3 separate regions of the Homo sapiens genome follow, and all the other regions are reported to be linked to region 1. Evidence: microRNA targets listed by miRTarBase, many of them from high-throughput screens and not tested one by one. Region 1 holds a microRNA gene; each other region holds the end of a gene's coding sequence.

Evidence for each region. Region 1 holds the annotated microRNA hsa-miR-548at-5p (AAAAGUUAUUGCGGUUUUGGCU, at 1,697-1,718, shown strand). A microRNA usually pairs through its seed, bases 2 to 8, with sites in the 3' UTR of a target mRNA and lowers its output. Matches are read on the target gene's strand: a 7mer-m8 pairs with bases 2 to 8, a 7mer-A1 pairs with bases 2 to 7 and ends in A, and an 8mer does both.
Region 2: the mRNA of RNF6 is a reported target of hsa-miR-548at-5p. Seed matches in the 3' UTR shown: 7mer-m8 at 795-801 and 7mer-m8 at 1,186-1,192.
Region 3: the mRNA of UCP1 is a reported target of hsa-miR-548at-5p. Seed matches in the 3' UTR shown: 7mer-m8 at 808-814 and 7mer-A1 at 940-946.

Annotation. Positions count from the first base shown.
Region 1 is chr17:42,493,077-42,497,076 of GRCh38, forward strand. It overlaps MIR548AT (microRNA 548at), which reads left to right and starts at 1,697; the gene lies at 1,697-1,754. ATP6V0A1 (ATPase H+ transporting V0 subunit a1) reads left to right here. Exons shown (of 22, transcript NM_001130021.3): 12 at 1,258-1,397; 13 at 1,958-2,112; 14 at 2,550-2,640.
Region 2 is chr13:26,210,135-26,214,209 of GRCh38, reverse strand. It overlaps RNF6 (ring finger protein 6), which reads left to right. Exons shown (of 5, transcript NM_005977.4): 5 at 1-1,435. The coding sequence ends at 386. Among named protein-coding and RNA genes, the nearest start is that of RNF6, 10 kb to the left of the region's middle.
Region 3 is chr4:140,556,461-140,560,535 of GRCh38, reverse strand. It overlaps UCP1 (uncoupling protein 1), which reads left to right. Exons shown (of 6, transcript NM_021833.5): 6 at 526-1,105. The coding sequence ends at 640. Among named protein-coding and RNA genes, the nearest start is that of UCP1, 10 kb to the left of the region's middle.

The sequences.
Region 1 (4,000 bases):
GACTTCTCTAGCAAATCATTTGCAGGAACTGTTTTAAGCAAAATGTTTCTTCTAAGATGTCTGATATTTTTAAATGGCTTTTTTTTTGGCTTCCCTGTTCCAAGGTTAGACAGAAAAAATGTAGCAAGTATTGGCCACTTTAGGTACAACACAGATTTCTCCTATATTTGGAGAGTTAATTATTAAATCAAGAGTGTGAGTATTCATTTTCAGTTGGAGCCCTATGGAAGAACTGCTTTGCTCTGGGCTCTCTCCATCTGTACGTTATCTGATATTTAGCTTTATATCACTGGGACATGGTTGCTGCACAAAGAGAAGACAGCTGGCCTGCCCTGGGAGCAGGGTCCCACGAGTTACAAGAGAGTCAGAGAACAAACCAATGTTGTCAAGGTTACACCTTCATTTCCACTGTTCTTTGTTTGAAATGTTATCAGAGCTGCCAGGCACAGTGCCTCATGCCTGTAATCTCGGATATTCAGGAGGCTGAGGTGGGAGGATTGCTCAAGGCCACAAGTTCAGGACTAGCTTGGGCAAAATAGTGAGATTCCATCTAAAAAAATATTATTTATCAGTAATTTTAAAACAAAATTAACTGGGCATGGTGGCACATACTTGTAGTTCCAACTGTTTGGGAGGCTGAGGTGGGAGGATAACTTGAGTCCAGGGGTTGCAGGCTGCAGTGAGCTGTGATGAAACCACTGCACTCCAGCCTGGGTGGCAGAGAAAGACCCCATCTCTCTTTTAAAAAAAGTTATCAGTAGCTCAAATTTCATTAGCTACTTTGTGAAGATGTGTTGATTCTGCCATGAAAGATTTTCTCTGAGAGTCCTATCTGTCTGGCAGCTGGGGAGTAAGTCACCTTATATTGATCTTAAGATTATGGAAGCCTGGGCACGGTGGCTCACGCCTGTAATGCCAGCACTTTGGGAGGCCGAGGCAGGTGGATCACTTGAGGTCAGAGTCGGAGACCAGCCTGGGCAACATGGTGAAACCCTGTCTCTACTAAAAATACAAAACTTAGCTAGGCATGGTGGTGGGCACCTGTAATCCCAGCTACTCAAGAGGCTGAGGCAGGAGAATCACTTGAACCTGGGAGATGGAGGTTGCAGTGAGCCAAGATTGAGACATTGCTGGCTGACAGAGCAAGACTCCATCTCAAAAAAAAAAAGGGGGGTGGGTATGGAAAAGAATGTAATATTTGTGGAATTGCTATGGTTTAATGTACTTTGTATTTTTCTTTTTTTGGTTTCTTCATAGCTCCGTATACTATTATCACGTTCCCTTTTCTATTTGCTGTGATGTTTGGAGACTTCGGTCATGGCATTTTAATGACCCTTTTTGCTGTGTGGATGGTACTGAGGGAGAGCCGGATCCTTTCCCAGAAGAATGAGAATGAGGTAATGTTTAAGTTACATCTGCATTGAACTGAAATTTTATAATTTCCCAAGCATTCATTATGAAAATTATGATCTGGAAGTCTTTTATCCATGAATTTATCAAAAGGAAGTAGAGAAGTTATGTTCATTTTAACACCAAAGACGACATGTGCAAGCTGGAAGTGGTAGTGTGTGCCTGTAGTCCCAGCTACTTGGAGGCTGAGGCAGGAGAATCACTTGAGCCCAGGAATTCGAGACCAGCATAGGCAACATAGTGAGACCCCATCTCTAAAAAAATAAAAATTATTTAGGTTTGGTGCAAAAGTTATTGCGGTTTTGGCTGCCAAAAGAAATGGCCAAAACCGCAGTAACTTTTGTGCCAACCTAATAAAAAAATAGAGGCCACATCCTGTGAAAGTGACTGTCTCATTAGCATTGTATTTTGGTTTTTACTTCAAGCTCTCTGAATCAGGATGGGGTAAAGTAGTGCTGGAGAAAGGGGCAGGTATATTCTGAATAACATTGTCACAATGTGAGCTGCAGTGAGTACATTCTCATTACTTCTTTCTTCTGGTTCCCAGATGTTTAGCACTGTGTTCAGTGGTCGATACATTATTTTATTGATGGGTGTGTTCTCCATGTACACTGGCCTCATCTACAATGATTGCTTTTCCAAGTCTCTTAATATCTTTGGGTCATCCTGGAGTGTACGGCCGATGTTTACTTATAATTGGACGTAAGTTGCAGAAGAAGCTAAAATTCAAAGCTTATTCCTTTCATGTGCAGCCCTGATTTTTAAGACAAGTGGTAAACTGACACTTCTTTAGGAAGTGGTGACAGTGTCTCCTCATTCATGCTCCACACTGTGAGTTGCTTTGTGATTTGTTCAGCAAGTATCCAGGAACTAAGATTAGAAATGATTTTTTTTTTTTTTGGAAACTAAAACCAGATTCCCCAGTTCCCTACTTGATTGTGTGTTTGTGTGTTTAATTTTTCTTTTTGTCATTTTGGATCCCTCAGTCTCAGCTGCTAGTCTCTCCTCTTTATTTTTCCCCTCCCATTTTATTGAAGAGACAAGATAGCTACAGTAATTTATTTTGGGGTCAGTTTCTGGACCCTTGTTGTTTCCCTCTCTTGTTCAAAAATAATGTGACTTTTTCCCTGTCATGGTAGTGAAGAGACGCTTCGGGGGAACCCTGTTCTACAGCTGAACCCAGCCCTCCCTGGAGTGTTTGGTGGACCATACCCTTTTGGCATTGATCCAGTAAGAGGACTTCCTTCCTATATGCTAACCTCAAATTTTTTAACACTAACCCTGAAGCAAGAGAATTAAAATGAAGATAAATAGTTATGTGGGCTTTCACTGGGCATGGTCGCTCATGCCTGTAATCCCAGCACTTTGGGAGGCCGAGGAGGTGGGATCACCTGAGGTCAGCATGGTGAAACCCTATCTCTACTAAAAATAAAATATTAGCCGGGCGTGGTGGCGCATGCCTGTAGTCCCAGCTACCCGGGAGACTGAGGCAGGAGAATCGCTTGAACCTGGGAGGCAGAGGTTGCAGTGAGCAAGCTGCACTCCAGCCTGTGTGACAGAGCAAGACTCCGTCTCAAAAAAAAAAAAAAAAAAAAGAAAGAAAGAAAGAAACAAACAAAAATAGTTATGTGGGTTTTCGTTGACATATTTTTGGGAAACCTTGATGTATGTATTCAGAGGACTTCTAAGCCATAAGAGACCCAAGTGCCTTGAGGAGCCACATACTTTTCCCTGCGCTGCTTATTTCTGAGGTGGTTAATAATATCGACTCTGGGAAGATTGATTTTTCAAGACTCCTTCCCATTTCTTAATTTATTTCTGCTTACTTAGTTTGGTTTTTTATTTTTAGCAGACATTTTAGCAAAGCAGAAATATATTTTTCCTGTGGATTTTAGACTTGCATTCTTATATTTACGAACTTACAAAAACTTATCCGAGAATTAATTTTTTTTTCAAATGCTTAGGCAAATTAAGTATGATCAAGTCTTCTTTATTGTGTGCTGTAAAAATGGAGTGGCGGCAAGAATGTAATACAGGGCATCTGACTGCTGAGGAAAAAAAAAAATAATACAGGCTGGGCGAGGTGGCTCATGCCTGTAATCCCAGCACTTTGGGACACAGAGTCAGGTGGATCACTTGAGGTCAGGAGTTCGAGACCAGCCTGGTCAACATGGTGAAACCCCATCTCTACTAAAAATACAGAAATTAGCTGGGCACGGTGGCATATGCCTGTAGTCCCAGCTACAGGAGGCTGTGGAAGAATTGCTTGCGCCCGGGAGGAGGAGGTTGCAGTGAGCCCAGATCGTGCCACTGCACTCCAGCCTGGGGGACATAGCAAGACTCCATCTCAAAAAAATAGATGGAATGACAGCACCACAGGGCTACAATCAGCGAAACATAGACTGTGGGAAAATATATAAGATAAACAACCCAATTTCTTCAAAAGAAATTTTGTAATGAATGAAAAAGGAAAGATGGAAGGAGAACCTGTAGTTTAGAGACTCAAGAGATATATCTACAATCATAATGTATAAGCCAGGCACGGTGGCTCACGCCTGTAATCCCAGCACTTTGGGAGGCCGAGGCAGAC
Region 2 (4,075 bases), not on the chromosome of region 1:
CTCATACTCGAAACAGTGACAGTAGGGGTGGCAGGCAGTTGCGAAATCCAAACAATTTAGTTGAAACTGGAACACTACCCATTCTTCGCCTTGCTCACTTTTTTTTACTAAATGAAAGTGATGATGATGATCGAATACGTGGTTTAACCAAAGAGCAGATTGACAATCTTTCCACCAGGCACTATGAGCATAACAGTATTGATAGTGAACTAGGTAAAATCTGTAGTGTTTGTATTAGTGACTATGTAACTGGAAACAAGCTCAGGCAATTACCTTGCATGCATGAATTTCACATTCATTGTATTGACCGATGGCTCTCAGAGAATTGCACTTGTCCGATCTGTCGGCAGCCTGTTTTAGGGTCTAACATAGCAAACAATGGGTAAGGTGATGGGATCTACTCAAATACTGTTTTTTAGTAGAACTGAATGTTCAAGCATTGTTTTGCTGAGTTATTTGTGATTAGCTAACCAGGATGAAAAATAACAGATTATATATAGTTTGAACTATTTTTCGTGTGCTTTTTTAAACTTGTTAAAAAGAAATTTATATAAAATTTAAAATACAAATGTTAAATTATCCAGAAATACAGAATAGTTAATATTGCTAGAACCAAATAACCTCTAAAATGTTTTTATTTTGGTAATTTTGTCATGCTAAGCACTTTTGTATCTGCACAATTCAGTAGGTTAAGAATCAATCTTCTTTTTCTTAATAGTACAGCAGACTTTAGCTTCAAGTTTCATAGGCTTAGTACTTATATCTAGACATTTGTGTCTAAATAAGCTTTTCATTAACTTTTTATTTTAAGGACAGTATCTTTTCATGAAAGAGTATTTGGCTGAATGTTTGCTATATATATGTTACTTGAAATGTTAAATTTAATATGCAGCATACCATAGGTGTATATATAGGTATATAATTTTAAGGTTAAAATATTCAGTCTACAAGTTTGGTTCTTATTTAAGCTTTTGGGCTAATACTGCATATGGCACAATGTTTAATATTGGCAAGTTCATCTCAGAGAAAGGGGATTCAGATATAATTTTAAAGTAGAGATAATTTACTGAAGCGTCTCTGACAATCTAACTTATTAGACAGCAAGCAATATATAATACTGAAAAAGTATTCAGAAATGGAAAATTTACATCATATAGGTTATTTAACTTGTGTTCAGCCTTTTTGTAACTTTTTTGAAAGTGCAAACAATTCTTTGGATTATTAAATAAGGTATACAGTATGCATGGTTTCTCAAATTTAGTTTTAAAATCTAAAAGTCTATAAAGAATCAGATGCATAGGCAATATGTTAAGTTCACTTGGAGGCTAAAAATCTCCAGTGAAAACAAAACGAAAACCTTTAAGAGAATGTAGAGTTTATATAAACACAAAGTATGCATTGAAGATCTGTTTCTACCAATAAACATTAAAACAAAGACTGTATGTGAACTATGTTTTTCTGTTGTTCCACTGTGGTTTATTCACCCTCCACTAATATTTCATACTAGATGCCAGGCAGTGTTATGGGATAGAGTATTTCCCAGACGACAGACAAAAGTCCCTGGCTTCATGGAAAAGACATATTTGCTCTTAGAAACTGAATATCAATTGATAAAGTGAATTATTATTCTTACTTTCATATTTGCTTATTAATATATGACAGGATTTTCTTGTGGTGATACTGTTTGGGCAAAATCACAAGAACAGTACTTAGGCCAGATTCTGTGAGATTTAGAAATATCTCCACATTTAATTTTCCTTTCTGACTGGTGACTATGTTCAATTCATTAGGTTAGATGCATGCCCAGGAATGTTAAGGAGTGCATTTACATGGAGTAAAAGGTTTTCATAAAAGTTGTGACTTTGTTTGGAGTAAATTATTTATGTAGGTCAGTTTGAGGATCTAAGACTGGGAAGGTTGATTTCAATCAGATTTGAAGGCTTTTCATAGCAAACTAAGGACTTTTTATCTTACCTTATAGAGATGTTAGATGTCTCTTGATTTTAGTGGCATAGGGTAGGATCATTTTTCATGGCCCAGGAGGATGGGTCTACTACAGCATATAGAACACAATGGAATGGAGAGAGATGGGAAGCAAAGAAACCAATAAGAGAACTATTGTGATAAAAGACATCATTATTTTTATTACCAGTTGTCATCACTTATCTACCCTAGAATGGTGGCAATGAAACTGAAAGGAAAGAGAAGGGTGTAAAAATGTTGGTTTTTAAAAAAAGACGTTGTTTGGTCTCTAGTTCAGTATGAAGAGGTGGAAGAGAGAATCACCTAGGTGGAGGAGGGAGAGGTAGCACAAATTAGTTACAAGGTATGCCAATTTAAACATCTTGAACATAGCTTAATTCATACATCTCACTTATTTTAGTGTTAAAATTTGCCCCCAGTATGAGGAGAGACTAAATCCAGCATTTTTATTTTTATTTTTATTTTTATTGAGACAGAGTCTCACTCTGTTGCCCAGGCTTGAGTGCAGTGGCACTATCTCGGCTCGCTGCAACCTCCGCCTCACAGGTTCAAGCAATTCTCCTGCCTCAGCCTCCGGAGTAGCAGGGATTACAGACATGCGCCACCACGCCCGGCGAATTTTCTGTATTTTTAGTAGAGACAGGGTTTCACCATGTTGGCCAGGCTAGTCTGGAACTCCTCACCTCATGATCCGCCCACCTTGGCCTCCCAAAGTGCTGGGATTATAGGCATGAGCCACCATGCCTGGCCCGTTTATTTCTTATATGGGATATTCCTCAGGAAGTTCTACCTCCCTGGGCCTGATGCAATAGGAAAATTAGGAGGACAAAGGAAGAGGGGAATGAAAAAAGTAAGGATACAGAAAAAATAAAGGCATATTGATTCTTTGACTTAGTCCTTTGCAAGACATGATAATGTTACTAGCATGGAAAGAAATCCCATATAGGCATTTGAAACAGAAGTAGATTGTGTTTTGTATGGAAAATTCCCTGAAGGCAGCAGTACAGCTTAATGAATTTCATAAATTGATAACCCAGTTGGGAATAAAAAAGGATATTCTTTAATATTTTCATTCATTTCCCAATAAACAAGGCTGATGACAAATACAAAGGCCCATTAATCTATTTATAGCTTCTATTTAGCAATGATTATACCCTTTGTGGTTCCAATATAGAGAAGAACAAATAGTTAGAAATTCTTCATTTGAATATTATGTTCCATGTCAGGTCCGTAGAGCTTGTTCTTTATAGTGTGGCTGTCTGGCAAACTTCTATTTCTAGATTGCCAGCTTCCAGCTGCCCTCTCACATAGTTACAGCCTTTTACCCTGTTTTCTCTTTTCCTAGATTTTTTTAGTTTCAGCCAGCATTATGACCCTTACTTAATTATCACTCTTACGAGGTTATTTTCCTTTCAATATTTAACATGAATTCATAATTTAAACCTCTGAAGCTCTCCTTGAAGTATTTTTGCTACCTAACTTAGTAATTGGCAGAGTTTAGGGAGTCAATCACGTGGCTATTTGCCTCCAAAGCTCCTGCTTTTCCTGCTATGCTGCATTCTGGAGAAGTGGAAATGCCTTGGGAAGTTTTCAGTCTAATTTAATTCCTCCTAAAGATATTTTTCTAATTTTACAACTTTGTTCTATCATATGTCTGATTACCCTAATTTCCATAGGCAAATACATCCTTCTGTCTCATGAATGGAGGAGAAGAGTTGCCCCTAAAAGATATAACAGAATCTGTATTATAAAGATGAATCCAGGAAAGAGATGAATGAGGCATCTGAAGATGCTGCATTAAGGGCCAGAGTTGACAAGCTCAGTCTGAGGCATTTTCATGTATATTACTCCCAGACAAGAACATCTAATGAACTTTTAATCTTCCTGCATCTCTCCATTGGAATAATCTGTGGCCAGGGGAGGAGAAACTAGAAACAGCACTTTACATGAAAGCCAGGGTGTTAATTCACTTTGCAGTAGTAGGTGGCTCACTTGGGGTCTCTCATTCAGTCCTGTGCAACACTGGAAATCAGAGAGCTGGCGTATCTGTATTAGGAGATGATTTCCCAGGAAGCCAGATTCATCTATCGTT
Region 3 (4,075 bases), not on the chromosome of region 1:
TTCTAATAGTTTCCTACCTCCCATTCAGAAAGCAAAGCAAAACAAGCAAAAATTCCCCCTTCCCTCAAAAAAGGAAAGAGTTTTTGAAAAAGTTCATGTCAGTGAAGAAAAGACATGTTTTGGGAGTGAAGGATATTTGTGGATTTGTATAGATGTGATCATCAGGGCTGTGTTGTTTTGAAGTAATATAGGACATCTAGAGGAAAATTTATTTTCAGCAGAGGAGGGAAAGATGAAGAGTAGGTACTTTTAAGCATCTTCACTTGAGGAGTGGCAAAATGAGAAGCATAACCTGCTATAATCACTTTAAGAATTTCAGGCTGAGTGTGGTGGTGCAGTCTCTAGTCCCAGTTACTCCAGGAGGCTCAGGTGGGAGGATCACTTAAGCCCAGGAGCTCGAGGTTGCAGTGAGCTATGATTACACTACTGCATTCCAGCCTGGGCGGCAGGGTGAAGCCTCATCTCAAAAATTAAAAAAAAAAAAAATCAAACAAATTAATCGAACGATGACATGCACTTTTCTAGGTTGGTACCTTCCTTCTTGCGACTTGGATCCTGGAACGTCATTATGTTTGTGTGCTTTGAACAACTGAAACGAGAACTGTCAAAGTCAAGGCAGACTATGGACTGTGCCACATAATCAGCTTCAAGAAAATGATGTAACATACCAGTGGGAATCTTGCTGACTGGATCATAAAAACAAACAAAACTTATTCACTTATTTTAACCTAAAAAGATAAAGGAATTTTGGCAGAGAATTTTGGACTTTTTTATATAAAAAAGAGGAAAATTAATGCCTATTTCATATAACTTTTTTTTTTTCTCAGTGTCTTAAGAAGGGGAAAGCAAAACATTCAGCATATACCCTGGCAAATGTAATGCAGATAAGCTACTGCATTTGACCATTTCTGGAGTGCAATTGTGTGAATGAATGTGAAGAACTTTAACATGTTTTAATTACAATTCCAACTGGTGGAAAAGAAACTGAGTGAAATGCAGTTTATATTTATAAATACTTAAAAATGAAGTTATTAAAAATATTAGTTTTTATTAACCACAGTTGTCAGTTAATATATTCAATAAAGTATTGCTAATACCTTTTAAAGTTTGTCTTTTGAGATCTATACCTGGGTGTAAGAGTCAAGTTCACTAGAATACAAGACTGCCCAATAGCAAATGCAGGTCTTTAGAATCATAGGCATGAACCTACTCTGAATGTTATTAGTATAGATTTTTAATGTTTAGAGTCCAGATTTGATGACATCTCTAACAACTTCTAATCTAAGACACTATATTCATTTTGGCAGGATTGCTACTAGAGTCTTGGTATCTGTGCTAGCATCACATAATTTTAGAGCTGGAGGGTACTTCTGGGAAGACAGAGGAACAGTTTGAGATTCCTACTGAGATGAAAACGAATCTTCATGGAATCTTTCAGCAAAGCCAAATTCAAATTCATCATTAGCACCTGTAGTAACCTTTTCAATGCCTACAAACTGCATGCAGAAGAGATAGGGAAACAGTAAAACAGATATTAAAAGAAGTTTTTAAGACAAAGCCCAGCCTGATTTTAAGCTAAATCCAAGGATTGGCAGCTTGGATGAGCAGGAAGGTTACAGGCTGCCAGACATCATTCTAGTTCTGTTTTAATCAACTCCATGTTACATTTACTATCAGGGATTCTCACCTCACCCTCATGCATGTCTTCCCCATTCATTACCCGCAAAAGTGTCTTGTAGCAGATGTCTTCTGTGTCCCATACATACCATTTTGCTCTTTAGTGCTTGCTGGCCTGACTTCCTATTGTCATGTCAGCATCTGCCCTTTTTAGGGTCTCTGGCCACCAGAGCCAGCTTTACTCACCTGTGCATGGCATTCTAGAAGAGCAGCAGGGAAAATAACACAGCCCCAGTGCAGCCCTTAACCACCAATAACTGGTAGTAGTTGGTGTACAAATATCTCAGTTCCCTCAACTGTCAGGTGGAATACCGCTGAGGGATCAAACTCTAGTAACACACAGTAGTGTTTTGCTTACTATGGTTAACTAAAAAATCACAGGGTCTTCATGCATTTGGAAAGGATACTTTATTTCTTACAAAGGGTTACAGCCTACAAGGTGGTCATTCTGCAGGCTAGAAAGCGTAACCTCCAGCAAAGACCGGAGGCAGGCACTTCTAGGGAAGGAAGAGTAAGACAGAAATTTAAATTGAATGGGTTGGCCAAGTATACATATTCAACAGGCTACAGGTGGATTCATGAATATTCATGAAGGCAGTCCTGATGCATGCATGTTACACCTTGGGGTGGAGGCTTAACATTTAAATGTATTACAGTTAGGCCCTATACATGAAAAGGTGAAGCAGTAACACGAAGGCACACAATGCACCATTTCTGTAAACAGGCCAGAGCCAGTTCACAGTGGTTGGTCTCTTATCATGAGAAAGCTACTAAAATCCTCTTGTCCAGTTAAAACTGTAGTTATGGCTGGTGGAAAATGGGCTGGAGTCAGTCAACACTTGGTGAAGCTGCAGTTGCTTCAGACACTCAAGGCCAGTGTTTGTTTAGCTGCTCGAGAAAAAGAAAAATCTTGTGGCAGTTAGAACATAGTTTATTCTTTAAGTGTAGGAGTGTGTGACTTAATCCTGCCTGGCATGTCCTTAGATCCTGTTTATAATTTGGCATCTTATAGCTCACAAGTGATATGAATGTGTACACAGAAAATCCAAAAGAATTGGCATACATAATAAGAGTTTGGCAAAGTGGCTAATAAAATCAATATTTAAAAGACTAGATACCTAGATTTCTACATACCAGCAAAAGGAAGTTAGAAAATAAAGCTGTAAAAATGTGTAACAGCATTTTAAAATAGTACCTGGGAATAAATATAACAAAAGATGTGTCATATCACTATGGAGAAGACTACATTGCTACAAAGAATATTGCCACAAAGTGTCTGTTCCATCAGTCTGTGATCTCTATTTTAACATTCATGCTGGTCAGTTGCGTCTAAGCCATCCAACGGAGGGAGTATAACAAAGCATGTCTGACCTTCCATTCTATCATGGCCAGGAATTCAGTTTTGAGGGTTTCTCTGGGGTCCCCTTGACCAAGAGGAGGTCCTTTAGTCAGTGGGAAGCTTTAGGATTTTATTTTTAGTTTACAACGTTTGTGGGCTGACTTCTATTCCCTGTCTCAGTTCCCTACTCCTTTACCAGTGTTTCCTGGGATCACCTCCCAAATGAATTGCAAATCCTTTCCTCACGGTCTGATTCACAGAGAATTCAAACTAGGACAAATCACAACCTTCAAATAGCATGTTTCTTTCAAGAATAAGGAAGAAAACATATAACTTTATTTCTTTGCATGGGACCCTGGTCAGGCAACGGGCAGTTGCAAATGGAGGGAAGCAAGTTGGCCAATTCCTGGTACAGAGAAATGTCAGTCATCAGAAGATATTTGAGGATCTGCTATGCTCTAGACACTGTGCATACTACACAGTGGTACATAAAGCAAGCATAGGCTCTGCCCCCATACAGAAGGAAATATAAGGGAATCAATCTGGTATCAGATGGTACCTGGGGATTTACCAAGTGCTTTGATAACAGCCTAAGTGAGCTCATCTGATAGGGACACAACTGTCGGGGGAAAGCCCCTACAGGCCTAAGAATCACCACAAAGTTTTTCTTTTTCATGCAAAGTAAGTGGCAATAACCACAATCTGTTCCTTGTTTAACAAGGCAAGCCGTTACTTGAAACAAGGTAAGATATAAAGTCTACAAATCATTCTTGCTTCTTTTTGTCTTCATTTGTTAAAATTGGAAAATTTTCATTGTGGAATATAACCCACATACATGAAAGTGCATAAAGCAAATGAATATTTTAATGTATTATTACAAAGTGAACTAACAGGTAACCAAAGTGGAGCTCAAGAAACAGAAAATTGCAAGCACTGCAGAACCACCTCCACCCACGGGATCACAACTTGAGACCATCTTAACTTCGCTTTCATGGTAAATGGTTTTCCGCGTGTTTTTATATGGATTCACTATTTAAGTATACATCCCTAAATTATATG